2 separate regions of the Homo sapiens genome follow, and region 2 is linked to region 1. Evidence: fine-mapped expression QTL. Tissue or cell type: breast. Region 1 holds a variant in brackets; the other region holds the start of a gene. All regions are shown on one strand. Distances are from middle to middle.

Evidence for each region. PIP is the estimated chance that this variant, and not a neighbour inherited with it, causes the effect.
Region 2: it holds the start of PIR, and the variant in region 1 is fine-mapped to the expression of PIR in breast (GTEx, PIP above 0.99).

The regions. Positions count from the first base shown.
Region 1 is chrX:16,269,984-16,278,091 of GRCh38, reverse strand. No RefSeq gene overlaps it. Among named protein-coding and RNA genes, the nearest start is that of MAGEB17-AS1, 110 kb to the right of the region's middle. The variant C/G (reference allele first, on the strand shown) is at 4,308.
Region 2 is chrX:15,489,468-15,497,575 of GRCh38, reverse strand. PIR (pirin) reads left to right here and starts at 4,243. Exons shown (of 10, transcript NM_001018109.3): 1 at 4,243-4,386; 2 at 6,267-6,414. The coding sequence starts at 6,319. It overlaps PIR-FIGF (PIR-FIGF readthrough), which reads left to right and starts at 6,267. Exons shown (of 15, transcript NR_037859.2): 1 at 6,267-6,414. RefSeq lists enhancers at 3,827-4,330, 4,331-4,833.

The DNA.
Region 1 (8,108 bases):
GTCATCAGGTTATCTAAAGTCAAGATGAAGAAAAAAATCTTAAGAGCTGTGAGGCAAAAGCATCAGGTAAACCTATAAAGGAAAAAGTATTAGATTAACAGCAGATTTCTCAGCAGAAACCCTGCAAGCTAGAAGGGGTTGGGTCCCATCTTTAGCCTCCTTAAACAAAACAATTATCAGCCAAGAATTTTGGGTCCAGTGAAACTAAGCTTCATAAATGGAGGAAAGATACAGTCTTTTTCAGACAAACAAATGCTGAGAATTCACCACTACCAAGCCAGCACTACAAGAACTGCTAAAAAGAGCTCTAAATCTTGAAACAAATCCCCAAAATACACCAAAATAGAATCTCCTTAAAGCATTAATCTCACAGGACTTATAAAATAACAACACAATAAAAAAACAAAAAAACAAAACAAAACAAAACCAAGGTATTCAGGCAACAAATAGCATGATGACTAGAATAGGACTTCACATCTCAATACTTACATTGAATGTAAATGGCCTAAATGCTCCACTTAAAAGATACAAAATGGCAGAATGGATAAGAATTCACCAACCAAGTATCTGCTGTCTTCAAGAGGCTCACCTGACACATAAGGACTCACATAAACTTAGGGTAAAGGGATGGAAAAAGATATTCCATGCAAATGAACACCAAAAGCGACCAGGAGTAGCTATTCTTATATCAGACAAAACAAACTTTAAAGCAACAGCAGTCAAAAAAAAGACAAAGAAGGCTAGGTGCAGTGGCTCATGCCTATAATCCCAGCACTCTGGGAGGCCACGGTGGGTGGATTGCTTGAGTCCAGGATTTCGAGACCAGCTTGGACAACAGAGCAAAACCCCACCTCTCCTAAAAATACAAAAAAAAAAAAAAAAATTAGCTGGGTGTGGTGGCGTGCACCTGCAGTCCCAGCTACTCAGGAGGCTGAAGTGGAAAAATAACTTGAGGCTGGGAGGTCAAGGCTACCGTGAGCCAAGATTGTGTCACTGCACTCTAAACCTGGGCAACCAGAGTGAGACCCTGTCTCACAAAAAAAAGAAAAAGACACTATATAATGATAAAAAGACTAGTCCAACAGGAAAAATCACAATCCTAAATATATATGCACCTAACACTGGAGCTCCCAAATTTGTAAAACAATGACTGCTAGACCTAAGAAATGAGATAGACAGCAACACAATAATAGTGGAGGACTTCAATAGTCCACTGACAGCACTAGACAGGTCATCAAAACAAAAAGTCAACAAAGAAACAATGGACTTAAACTATACCCTAGAACAAATGGACTTAACAAATATTTATAGAATATTCTACCCAACAACTGCAGAATATACATTCTATTCATCAGCACCAGGAACATTCTCCAAGATAGACCATATGATAGGCCAAAAAACAAGTCTCAACAAATTTAAGAAAATTGAAATTATAGCAAGTACTCTCTCAAACCACAGTGGAATAAAATTAAAAATCAACTTCAAAAGGAACTTTCAAAACCATGCAAATACATGGAAATTAAATAACCTGCTTTTGAATGATCATTGGGTCAACAATGAAATAAAAATGAAAATTTAAAAATTATTTGAACTGAACAATAATAGTGACACAACCTATCAAAACCTCCGGGATACAGCAAAGGCAGTGCTAAGAAGAAAGTTTATAGCATTAAATGCCTATATCAAAAAATCTGAAAGAGCACAAATAGACAATCTAAGGTCACACCTCAAGGAGCTAGAGAAACAAGAACAAACCAAACCCAAACCCAGCAGAAAGAAACAAATAACGAAGATCAGAGCAGAACTAAATAAAATTGAAGCAAAAAAAAAAAAAAAATACAAAAGATAAACGAAACAAAGAGATGGTTCTTTGAAAAGATAAATAAAATTCATAGACCATTAGTGAGATTAACCAAGAAAAAAAGAGAGAAGATCCTAATAAGCTCAATTAGAAACGGAACAGGAGATACTAAAACCAATACCACAGAAATACAAAAGATCATTCAAGGCTACTATGAACAGCTTTACACACCTAAACTAGAAAACCTAGAGGAGATGGACAAATTCCTGGATATATACAGCCCTCCTAGATTAAACCAGGAAGAAATAGAAACTCTGAACAGACCTATAACACGCAGCAAGATTGAAATGGTAATTAAAAAGTTACCAACAAAAAAAGTCCAGGACCAGACAGATTCACAGCTGAATTCTATCAGACATTCAAAGAAGAATTGGTACCAATCCTATTGACATTATTCCGAAAGACAGAGAAAGAGGGAATCCTCCTTAAATCATTCTATAAAGCCAATATCACCCTAATACCAAGACCAGGAAAAGTCATAACAAAAAAAGAAAACTACAGACCAATATCCCTGATGAACATAGATGCAAAAATCCTTAACAAAATACTAGCTAACCAAATCCAACAGCATACCAAAAAGATAATCCACTGTGACCAAGTGGGTTTCATGCCAGGGATGCAGGGATGGTTTAATATCTGCAAGTCAATAAATGTGATACACCCCATATAAACAGAATTAAAAACAAAAATTACATGATCATTTCAATAGATGCAGAAAAAGCATTTGACAAAATTCAGCATACTCAGTAAAATCGGCATAGAAGGGACATATTTTAAGGTAATAAAAGCCATCTACAACAAACCCACAGCCAACATTATACTGAATGGGGGAAAGTTGAAAGCATTTCCCCTGAGCACTGGGACAAGACAAGGATGCTTTCACCACTTCTATTCAACATAGTACTGGAAGCCCTAGTCAGAGCCATCAGAAAAGAGAAAGAAAGGGCATCCAAATCGGTAAAGAGGAATTCAAACTGTTGCTGTTTGCTGATGACATGATTGTATACCTAGAAAACCCTAAAGACTCACCCAAAAAGCTCCTATAACTGGTAAATGAGGTTCAGCAAAGTTTCAGGATACAAAATTAATGTACACAGTGGCCCTGCTATACACCAACAGCAACCAAGCCAAGAATCAAAGCAAGAACTCAACCTCTTTCACAATAGCTGCAAAAAATAAATAAATAAATAAATAAAAACAGAATATACTTAACCAAGGAGGTGAAAAACCTCTACAAGGAAAACTACAAAACATTGCTGAAGGAAATAATAGATGGCACAAACAAATGGAAACCCATCCCATGCTCATGGATGGGTAGAATCAATATTGTGAAAAGGGTGGAATCAATATTGTGAAAATGACTATAATGCCAAAAGCAATCTACAAATTCAATGTAATTCCCATAAAAATACCACCATACCATCATCATTCTTCAAAGAATTACAAAAAAAAAGAAAAAAATCCTGAAATTCATATGGAACCAAAAAGAGCCCACATAATCAAAGAAAGACTAAGCAAATAGAACAAATCTGGAGGCATCACATTACCTGACTTCAAACTATACTGTAAGGCCATAGTCACCAAAACAGCATGGTACTAGTATTAAAATTGGCATATAGACCAATGAAACAGAATAGAGACCCCAGAAATAAAGCCAAATACTTACAGTCAACTGATCTTCAACAAAGCAAACAAAAATATAAAGTGGGGAAAGGACACCCTATTCAACAAACGTTGCTGGGATAATTGGCAAGTCACATGTAGAAGAATGAAACTGGGTCCTCATCTCTCACCTTATACAAAAATCAACTCAACATGGATCAAAGACTTAAATCTAAGACCTGAAACTGTAAAAATTCTAGAAGATAACATTGGAAAAACCCTTATAGACATGGGTTTAGGCAAAGAATTCATGTCCAAGAACCCAAAATCAAATGCAACAAAAACAAAGAAAAATAGATGGGACTTAATTAAACTAAAAAGCTTCTGTACAGCAAAAGAAATAATCAGCAGACTAAACAAACAACCCACAGAGTGGGAGAAAATCTTCACAATCCATACATCTGACAAAGGACTAATATTCAGAATCTATAAGGAATTCAAACAGTCCCATCAAAAAGTGGGCTAAGGACATGAATAGACAATTCTCAAACGAAGATATACAAATGGCCAACAAACATATGAAAAAATGCTCAACATCACTAATGATCAGGGAAATGCAAATCAAAGCCACAAAGTGATATGCCACGTTACTCCTGCAAGAATGGCCACAATTAAAAAATTTAAAAAATAAGAGATGTTGGTGTGGATGTGGTGAAAAGGGAACACTTTTACACTGTTGGTGGGAATGTAAACTAGTACGACCCCTATGAAAAACAGTGTGGAGATCCCTTAAAGAACTAAAAGTAGATCTACCATTTGATCCAGCAATCCCATTCCTGGGTAT[C/G]TACCAGAGGAAAAGAAGTCATTATACGAAAAAGATACTTGCACATACATGTTTATAGCAGCACAATTCGCAATTGCAAAAATGTGGAGCCAGCTCAAATGCCCATCAATCAACGAGTGGGTAAAGAAAATGTGGTATATAGATGCCATGGAATACTACTCAGCCATAAAAAGGAACAAAATAATGGCATTTTCAGCAACCTGGACGGAATTGAAGACCATTATTCTAAGTGAAGTAACTCAGTGATGGAAAACCAAACATCGTATGTTCTCACTCATAAGTGGGAGCTAAGCTATTAGGACGCAAAGGTATAAGAATGACACAATGAACTTTGGGGACTTGAGGGAAAGGGTGGGATGGAGGTAAGGGAAAAAAGACTACACACTGGGTACAGTGTACATTGCTCAGGTGATGGATGCACCAAAATCTCAGAAATCACCACTAAAGGACTTATTCATGTAACCAAACATGACCTGTTCCCCAAAAACCTATTGAAAATTTTTAAAAGATTATAAAAAATATAAATTTGTGTGCAATAAAATCAAATAATTTTGACAACTTTTTATGTAAAGAATAATTAAGTTTTTGAAGTCTGCCAGTTTAAATAATTTTTTAGATTTTTGGATAACTCAAAATCTTCGTTTAATATCAAGTTAAGCTAATTTGTGAGTAATTATTGAATACCTAAATAATTTTTTTTTTTTTGAGACGAAGTCTTGCTCTTGTCCCCCAGGCTGGAATGCAATGGTGCAATCTCGGCTCACTGCAACCTCCGCTTCCCAGGTTCAAGTGATTCTCCCACCTCAGCCTTCCGAGTAGCTGGTATTACAGGCGCCTGCCACTATGCCTGGCTAATTTTTGTATTTTTAGTAGAGACGGGGTTTCACCATGTTGTCCAGGCTGGTCTCAAACTCCTTACCTCAGGTGATCTGCCCACCTCAGCATCCCAAAGTGCTGGGATTACAGGTGTGAGCCATTGCACCTGGCCATAATTTCTAAGATGCAATTCTGAGATTTTGATTACTAAATATTGTGTTGTTTCTATGCTTTTGCTTACCCTTTTATATGATGTAAAAAAAATCTAAATCTTTGGGTCATTTAATGAATGTGTTCATGTTAGCCATTCTGTAATGTAAAAGGGATGTGTGTGGTTGTAGAAAGTTGTGTTATGTGTGTTCGTGAACTTTGCTAGTCTACTAAAATACTCCTTTATATTAAAAGCCTGCACGACAGAGCGAGACTCCATCTCAAAAAAAAAAAAAAACAGTTTTCAATTATCTACCTTCATCCATTTTTCTGTATGAAATAGAGGTTAACTACTTTGGTTAAAAGTTATAACTACAGCTCGGGCAACACAATAAGACCCCATCTTTACAAAAAATAAAAAATTAGCTGAGTGTGGTGCTGCGTGCCTGTAGTCCTAGCTGCTCAGGAGGCTGAGAAGGGAGGATTGCTTGAGCCCAGGAGTTCAAGGCTGCAATGACCTATGATTGTGCTAGTGCACTCTAGCTCAGGTGATAGAATGAGGCCTTGTCTTAAAATAAAATTATAATTAATATGGCTGGTTGAGACTATACTGTGAACATTCGTGACAGAGAAATATAATTATTTACGTGCTTTGTTTCTCAGAGCAAAAGAGAGTACTTTTATCCTAATGGATGTATTCTCAAACCCTTTGGTCTCAGGATCCCTTTACATTTTTAAAACTTTTAAGGACTACTAAAGAGCTTTTGTTTAAGCAGGTTGTATTTATCAGCCTTTGTGATATTAGAAATGAAAATTAAGAAATCTTTAAAGTATTTGATACTTTTGAAAAATAGATATAATGAACTGATTGCATGCTAACCTAAATAACACATTTAATGAAAACAAATTATATTTTTAAAAAATTAGTGAGGAGAGTTGCATTGTTGTAAATTTTTGTAAATCTCTTTGATAATAGAGATTTGCTAATAGAACTAATAGAAGCCTTCATGTTAAAAACTGTCAATAAATTAAGTATTGAAGGAACATACCTAAAAATAATAAGAGCTATTTATGACAAACCCAGAGCCAATATCATACTGAATGGGCAAAAGCTGGAAGCATTCCCCTTGAAAACTGGCATAAGACAAGAATGCTCACTCTCACCACTCCTGTTCAACATAGTATTGGAAGTTTTGGCCAGGGCAATCAGGCAACAGAAAGAAATAGATGGTATTTGAATAGGAAGAAAGGAAGTCAAATTATCTTTGTATGCAGATGACATGATCCTATATCTAGAAAACCCCATCGTCTCAGCCCAAAATCTTCTCAAGCTGATAAGCAACTTCAGCAAAGTCTCAGGATACAAAATCAAGATGCAAAAGTCACAAGCATTCCTATACACAAACAATAGGCAAGCAGAGAGCCAAATCATGAATGAACTCCCATTCACAATTACTACAGAGAGTATAAAATACCTAGGAATACAGCTAACAAGGGAAGTGAAGGACCTCTTCAAGGAGAACTACAAACCACTGCTCAAGGAAATCAGAGAGAACATAAATGAAAAAAACATTCCACGCTCATGAATAGAAAGAATCAATATTGTGAAAATGGCCATACTGCCCAAAGTAGTTTATAGATTCAATGATATTGCCATTAAACTACCATTGACATTCTTCACAGATTTAGAAGAAACTATTTTAAAATTCATATGGAACGAAAAAAGAGGTCATATAGCCAGGACAATCCTATGCAAAAAGAACAAAGCTGGAGGCATCACACTACCAGACTTCAAACTATGCTACAAGGCTACAATAACCAAAACAGCATGGTACTGGTACAAAAACAGATATGTAGATCAATGGAACAGAACACAGAACTCTGAAAAAAGACTGTACATCTACAACTGTCTGATCTTCGACAAACCTGACAAAAACAAGCAATGGGGAAAGGATTCCCTATTTAATAAATGGTGCTGGGAAAACTAGCTAGCCATATGCAGAAAATTGAAACTGGACCCCTTCTTTACACCTTATACAAAAATTAACTCAAGATGGATCAAAGACTTAAATGTAAAACCCAAAAGCAAAAATTGACAAATGGGATCAAATTAAACTAAAGAGCTTCTGCACCGCAAAAGAAACTATCATCAGAGAGAACAGGCAACCTACAGAATGGGAGAAAATTCTTGCAATCTATCCATCTGACAAAGGTCTAATATCCAGAATCTACAAGGAACTTAAACAAATTTACAAGAAAAAAAAAACAAACAACCCCATTAAACAGTGGGCAAAGGACATGAACAGACACTTCTCAAAAGAAGACATTCATGTGGCCAACAAACATATGAAAAAAAGCTCCACATCACTGATCACTAGAGAAATGCAAATCAAAACCACAATGAGATACCATCTCATGTCAGTTAGAATGGCAGTTATTAAAAGGTCAAGAAACAACAAATGCTGGCGAGGTTACAGAGAAATAGGAATGCTTTTATACTGTTGGTGGGAAGGAAAATTAGTTCAACCATTGTAGAAGATGGTGTGGCGATTCCTCAAAAACCTAGAACCAGAAATACCATTTGACCCAGCAATCCCATTACCAGGTATATACCCAAAGGAATATAAATTATTCTGTTACAAAGATACATGCACATGTATGTTCATTGCAGCACTATTCACAATAGCAAAAACATGGAATCAACCCAAATGCCCATCAACGATAGACTAGATAAAGAAAATGTGGTACATATACACCATGGAATACTATGCAGCCATAAAAAGGAACAAGATCGTGTTCTTTGCAGGGACATGGATGCAGCTGGAAGCCATTATC
Region 2 (8,108 bases), 780 kb after region 1:
GCATAATACATAATTTAATTATTTATTACCTTTATTATTTGTCTCTCCTCACTAAAGAGTAAGACCACAAGGGCTCCAACAGCTTATCTCTGCAGTTTGAACTTTGTTCATGGGTATCTCTTCTTTGGGGACGTCACTCCATTACCTCCTGCATGTATTCCTTCTGGTGCTAAAATAATCTGCTTGTAAGTTGGGATCAGATGTGAATTATTCACACTTACTAGAATTGAAGATTAACATGTCACCTCTCCTAAGGGTGCTTGCATATCAAACCTCAGGTTCAGTGCCGGAACAAACTGCCCTGTTTTTAATGAAAGGAAATGGGTGAGTAGGAGGTGGAGGTAGACACAAAAATGTTTGTTGTTTCCTTTTGTTATCAGCCATGTCCTGTCCTGTCACCCATGAAACCTTTACATAGACTGTTGGCATTTTGTCAATCTTACTCCTGTTTTTCTAGTCGGAGGTAAGTATTTGTGGTCTACATGGAGTTGGCGAACTATGAGCCCCATGAGTTTTTGTGAATAAAATTTATTGGAACACAGCCACTATTCCTGCCCCACGGCCTTTGCATTGATGGTATCCTCTACTTGGCAAACTGTCAAGTGTTGTCTATGTCTGCTTTCAGTCTACAACGGCAGAGTTGAATAGTTGAGACAGAGACTGTATGCTCACAAAGTCTCAAATACTTACTATCTGGCCTTCACAGAAATAAATCACCAACTCATACTCTGGAAGCATCCTGCCAGCTTTGGAAGTGATCTTGCAGCTTGGAATTTAGTTTAACAGCTCCATTCAACAGAGAGTCACTTCATTTACTGTGTACAAGGTGCTAGAGTTGGAAGCAAAGAAAGTAGACAAAGGGGTATAACATTTTGGAATCCTTCTAGTTCTGATTCCCACTGTGACTCAAATTATTTTTTTCCTAAGATTGTATCATGAAACATTTCAAAATATAGAAAAGTTAAAAAAAGTTAAAGCACCAATACACCACCATCTGGATTCTACAATTGACATTTTGCTGTATTTGCTTTGTCATATATCAATCCGTTTATCCATCTCTCTATTCATCCATTAATTCACTTTGTTGTCATTCCTATTATTATTGCTGCTATTGTTATTTTTTGGTGCATTCAAAGTAAGTTGCGGACATCAGTACACTTAATCCATAAACACTAGTTAATGTACATAACATTAACTAGAGGTTGTTAGTTATTCAAATTATTTTTTAATTTTTACTCCAATACTGTGATCTAGAAAGCGGCCTCCATTCAGCCAGAAGACAAAACTTTACAAAAGCTGAAAACTGAGAAAGGTTATCAGGGTAATTGAGGTAAGTATCAGGGGAATCATTCATCTAAATTTCTCCAGTTTCCTGGTTCAGAGATGAATTGGCCTTTCAGGCCTGAGAGTATTTTGCTTGTGATGGATTCTAGAAAGTTCTGTGGCTCAAAGGAAAGGGTCATAAGCTATTTTTTTTTCGGAGAACTGCCAAAAACCCAAGGGAAAGATAGAGAAAAACACAATTATGAGTTTCATGCAACAGCTGATCACATGTAGCTTCTTGGTCAGAGCACTGGTCGATGGAACAGACCGTGTCTGTGCAGAATGCTCTCATGAGGGTGGATATGGGAGTCACATGTGCTCATCTTTTCTGGATATCTTTGGATGTCTTTAACCACCCAGTGTATTTATGGCCTTCGTAAACTAGCATTTATAAAATAATCAGTCCTTGACTTGGAGCCAATTGATTTCCTGGGTTCAGTGAGTCTGAGTCTTTATAATATGGAATATTTCAGAGACATTTGTCATCTAATGAATAGCAGCTACACTGCCCTGAAGGGCAAATTAACAAAATCTACAAGAAAGAATTTTTGAGTTGATGGCTTGAAGAAGAAAGAAACAAAAATAAGGAAGTGTTTCAGATGTCCATGTACTTTTTTTTTTTTTTTTTTAATTTTTGAGACTGAGTTTCACTCTTGTTGCCCAGGCTGGAGTGCAATGGCACGACCTCGGCTCACGGCAACCTCCGTCTCCTGGGTTCAAGCAATTCTCCTGCCTCAGTCTCCCGAGTAGCTGGGATTAGAGGCATGCGCCCCCACGCCTGGCTAATTTTGTACTTTTAGTAGAGACAGGGTTTCTCCATTTTGGTCAGGCTGGTCTCGAACTCCCGACCTCAGGTGATCTGCCTGCCTCGGCCTCCCAAAGTGCTGGGATTACAGGCGTGAGCCACCGCGCCTGGCCCCATGTACTTCTATAATATGTATCTTTGAAAAGAAATTCAATAAGTTTTACAGAGGAGGAAAATGGAATTCGTGAATAAAAAAGAAAAGAGTCAAGGTACCTAAATAATGTGGTTGTCTTTAAAGATTATAATGGTGTTATTTGGAATCATTTAGGGAAGGCTTTGTTCATTGTCATATCAGCATGAGTTTTCTTTATGCTTCCCAAGATTCCAAAGGTGATCAACAGTCCATCTACACACTCATATATTTAGCCACCTACTCCACATCTTGATCTGGATGTCAATGACAGTGTGAAAAGTGCTCAAAGCTTAATATACAGGGTCACATTTCTCATCTCAAAACAGGACCCTGTTACAGTGAAACATTATACGCCCTTTGTTCATTTGTAAGAATTCTTCCCTCTCTCACCTTTGTTTCTCCTCATTTTAAGTCTTCTACCTTTTCAGACTTGTTCTTTTTTCTTTTCTTTTCTTTTTTCTGCAGGGGCCTGTAAATGGAATTCCTGCATTGCTCTAACCATGTACAACCTTGGACTTAGCTTTTACCTGTAACTGGCTTCTGAGAGACAAAGAGGAGAAACGTTCACTCCTAGTACACCTATTACAGCTGCAGAGGTAGAGGAGACAGTTGCAGAACTAGTTACAATGACGATAAGAAACAATACTTTGTTATTCCATAGCACCTTTAATGTTCATGTGTATTATCTCAGCTAGCCTTGAACTGCCTAAGTAAGGTGATGAGGACGGGTTTAAGCCCCACTGATATTTTAAAAGCCCAGAGAAAAGTGTTCGTTCCTCTACTAACCTGTTCTTTTAGAGCAGGGATCTGCATACTAGGCCTGCAGCCAAAATGAGTAGGTAGCCCACTACCTATTTTTGTATAGCCAGAGGGCTAAGAATGGTTTTTACATTTTAAGTGGTTTTACATTTAAGATCAAAAGAAGGATAATATTTCATGACAAGTAAAAATTATATGAACTCAAAATTGTATGAATTTTATGAATTTATATTTCAGTATTCATAATTAAAGTTTTATTGAACTACAGCCACATTCATTTATTTACATGTTATCTATGGCTGCTTTCTTGCTACAAAGGCAAACTGGAGAATGTACATGGCCTGCAAAGTCAAAGTATTTACTATCTGGTCCTTCACAGACAAAGTTTTCCAACCTTATTTTAGAGACACCACTGTCTTTCCTTTCTCAAAACCAGGCAATGAGCCTTCTGGTGTTTAGAGAATAGAAACTGCAGCTATGCCTGTACCACTAGTTAATAATCCTAGTAATCAACTAGATCCCCTCACTGGCTTGTGCCAGCTCCTCATTCTTCTGGAAAAACTCTCCAACGCCTGCCCACTGTGTTCCAACACCATACAAACTCTTAACCAATTATCTCCCCACTAGAGTGTGCCTTCTCTTCAGGCAGGAATAAAGACGTATGGCTGCCCGTCCCCACTCCCGCACTCCTTTTCTCGCAATTCTAACTGACAAACAGCAGGCAACTTATCTATGGAACAAACGATTCTGTAGTGCTTAGAATGTGACAGGCTCATTTAATTCTCATTTCAGCCCGATAAGGCTGGCACTATTATCATCACCATCCTCATTTTATAGAGGAGGAACCAGAGGCACAGAGAGACTGAGCCACCTGTCCCAGGTCATGTCAAGTGGTGCCTCCCAGCGGTGGAGGCAGCACTGGAATCCGTGCCGCCAAGCTCCGCCGGCTGGGTGACAGGGAGACTACAGTTAAAAACAGATTTCCCACAAGACCGACCGGAGCGCCGATCAGAGCACCTGCCCGGGCCACACATTTCCTCCTGGAGCACAGCAAGTGCCGCCTAAATTACCCGAGTGAGCATCTCTTCCCGGCACGAGAGGCAGGGAGGCCAAAGGGCCGCCAAGCTGGCCTGGGAGAGGCGTAGGGCGGAGCGAGAGTGGAGTGACATTCCCGAGGGCGGAGCCCCAGGGCCTCCGAGACCCGTAGACTCCCGCCTCCCGCCTCCTCTAGGCCGCCGGCCGCGAAGCGCTGAGTCACGGTGAGGCTACTGGACCCACACTCTCTTAACCTGCCCTCCCTGCACTCGCTCCCGGCGGCTCTTCGCGTCACCCCCGCCGCTAAGGCTCCAGGTGCCGCTACCGCAGCGTGAGTACCTGGGGCTCCTGCAGGGGTCCACTAGGTGAGGGAATGCTGGCGGTCAGTTTGCAAAATCCTGCCTTCCCCAGCTCACTTTAGACTCCTAGGGGAGATAACAAGAGATACTTAAATTGTACTACGAAATTTGGTGAAAATGGTAGACGGCTTTTCTTTCTGCAAAGCACTGAGATCTAAGTACCTCATCAGTTGTTCACATGCATACAATTTAATCGTAGGAGTCTGGAAGGACCCAGACATAATCTAGATGGGGATAAAGATACTTTCTGGTTGCTTCGATGTAGGTGATGACCGGCCTGTACTGCTTTGAGTATTAAGCTCGTTTCTGCGCCTTGCAACCTATCACCCAATAAATATTTATCGATTACTATTCAGGGAGGATACATTTTAGGGTAGGCCTTGACTAAGTGGAGGGTATTGTGGAGTAGAGCCCTTCTGAATAACAGCAGCTAACATTCTCATAGCACTAACTGCACCCCTTTGAGGTAGGCGGTCTTATCATTCCATTTTACAGATAAAACTGAGCCACAGAAAACCTCAGGTCACACAGCTGATATGTGGTGAAGCTGAGATGCAAACCTAGGCTGTCTGGTTCCAGAGTCTGCTTTTTGCCAAAGCACCTCTCTTCGTTTCAGTAGGAATCTTTGAAGGAATTGGGTATATTTCACTTGAAGAAAAGATTTAAGGGATTGGGGGTACTGTCTGCAAACACTTGAAGTGGAATAGGGATAGATTATATTCCTTCTGGGATAGTCCATTAGAACCTAGACCTCCCAAAGAGGAAAAGACTTTCGAATAACAAACTCTGGCTATAGGTAAGTCCTGAAATATGAGATACATTGCCAAGAACAGCTGGTCCATGACTTGCCTATGCTCTAGGAGACTTCATGAGTAAGCTGAAAGATTTCTTGCCCAAAATGTTGGCCCTGAACTTCAGGAATAGATGGGTCTTTGAATTCAATGACCCTCGAAGATCTCTTTTAATGCCAAGATCTTCAGCATGTTCTGGTAAGAGTTAGGGACCTCTTTGTTTTTCTCCATTTTCTCTAAGGCGCCACACAAACCTGCCCCCATCTGTCAGCCTCATTGGTAGCAACTACCTCATGGGTGCTACCAGTGAGGCTGACAGATGAGTGGCACTGGGGAAGGGGTGGGAGATCGAGAGAATTCAGTGAAGTAAGAAAGACAAAGTGTTCATTGGAGATTTTTAGTAAGGGGCCAACAGAGCTGCTAAAGTCATGCTTCACTTAACGATGGGGATATGTTCGGAGAAATGCATTGTTAGGTGATTTTGTCGTTGTGCAAGCATCTTAGAGTACACTTAGACAAACCTAGCTGGTATAACCTAGGTGTGTAGTAGGATATATGGTATAGCCTATTGTTCCTAGGCTACAAACCCATACAGCATGTTCCTGTACTGAATACTGAGGCAACTGCAACACCGTGGTGAGTATTTGTGTATCTAAACATACCTAAACATAGAAAAGATACAGTAAAAATATGGCATTATAGTCTTATGGGACTACTGTCATACATACAGTCCATATATTGTTGACTGTGTAATGTTGACCTGAATGTCATTATGTGGCAGGCACATGACTGTATCGCTAACCTTCGCACAAGATTACTGTAGGATTACATGAGATAGTTGTAAATAATTGGTGGGGTACTGGGCACCTAGTAGGTATGCATACATGTTCACCATCATTATGGTTGTTTTAAATCACCTAACCCAGGCCCTGCACATAGTAAGACATCAACAAATTGTAGCTGCTACTATTTTGCGCATCTAATCTTAATATCATTTATTTTGTAGTCCTTGGATGTTCCCTCCTTTATGACTTCTTTTTTTTTTGTTGTCCTTCCTTTAGCCCTCCATCCTCTACAGCTCAGCATCAGAACACTCTCTTTTTAGACTCCGATATGGGGTCCTCCAAGAAAGTTACTCTCTCAGTGCTCAGCCGGGAGCAGTCGGAAGGGGTTGGAGCGAGGGTCCGGAGAAGCATTGGCAGACCCGAGGTATGCTAGTTGGGTGGCTGCTCCTTGTTTTCTTTTCAGAAGGGACTGGTGGGATGTTGATGGTGATTTTGGGAAGAGGGGGCCAAGATAGTCGTGAGCTGGCCTGTGGAGTGCATAAGTGCAAACTTTAAAGTTTGCAATTGGGGGCAAACCAGCCCCAGCCCAAAGGGGGTTTCTGTAATGTGAATACAGAGGTCTTGGGCAGAAAGTGCAGCTGAGCTTCAGGAAATGTCTCTGCTTCTCTCTGCACACTGGTGTGCCACCCTGGGCTGACATGCTATCTGCCTCAGCATGCATATCGCCAAACATGCCCACCACACAGCCCCTAAGTTTATTTGCCCACACTTCAAAGCACCAGGGAGTAACTCTGATTCTCAATTCCAAATTCCCAGGAGAGAGAATCTGATTGGTTGAGCATAGATCAGGCCTCCACTGCTGGCCAATCTGCCGTTGCCAAGGATTTAGATTCACTGAGAGACTGCTGGGACCCAACTCTGTAGACGTCTGGTGAGGGACACGTGTAGATGGGTCTAGCTCTCAGAGAAGGTGATTATAGATTAGGTAGATGTCTTTCAACTTTAGAGAATGTTTTCATTTGAATATGGGAAATTTGGGATTTGTGGGGGAAATAAGTCTTATATGCACAGAAAGGTATCAGATGGTGGTCATAGCCCAGGGAATACAGCCCCTAGCACCATATCAGATCCCCAAAACATTTTCTAATAGAAGAAATACATTACAGAGATGGATTCCATTTTGAAAAGTGAGACTGGTTTGTCCCTCTTAAACTCTACTCTGATAATTTTCATGCTACTTTGTTGCTCAACTTAAGCTTTAAAAGGGTTACTTTCTCAACTTTTTAATCTTTGAAATGTATTTATAGGGTTTTAAAAAACTCCTGGCCTTCCTCAATGAGTGCTGATCTACATTTTTGATGGGTTCAATTTTTTTAGTTATGTTTTAAATTGACAAATAAAAATTGTATATATTTATGATGTACAAAATGATGTTTTGATAGGTGTCTATATTGTGGGATGGCTAAATCAAGCTAATTAACATATTCATTACCTCACATACTTATTTTTTTGTGATGAGAACACTTAAAGTCTCTCTTAGCCAATTTCGAGTATACATTGTTATTAACTATAGTCACCATTTTGTGCAATGAATCTCTTGAACTCATTCCTCCTGACTGAAATTTTGCATCCTTTGACCAACATCTCTCCTTCCATATCCTCCCATCCCCTAGCCGGGGTAACCACCATTCTACTCTTTGCTTCTGTGAGTTTGATTTTTTTAGATTTCGCATATGAGTGAGATCATGCAGTAATTGTCTTTCTGTGCCTGGCTTATTTCACCTAGCGTAATGTTGATTGGCCACTGAGGCAGAGGAAAAACTGTCAACACAACTCTCCATCAGCCCCATCAGGCCATTTCTCTTTCCAGTTAGCTTCCTGTTTACACCTGAATGTCTTTTGAGGTCCATCAAACAGTGTTTTCTGAAGGATACCTGCAAACAAGATTATTCTAATGGCTAAATGCACAGGGAGTGTTGGGGAGATGCAGATGGAGTTGGTATCATATTCTACTAGGCTACATCACCAATAGAACAATTGGAAAGAATTTTGGGGCCCCAAACACACCTGTTACTAAGCCACTATTATATATTGAGGGTAACTAACACTTTAATTAGC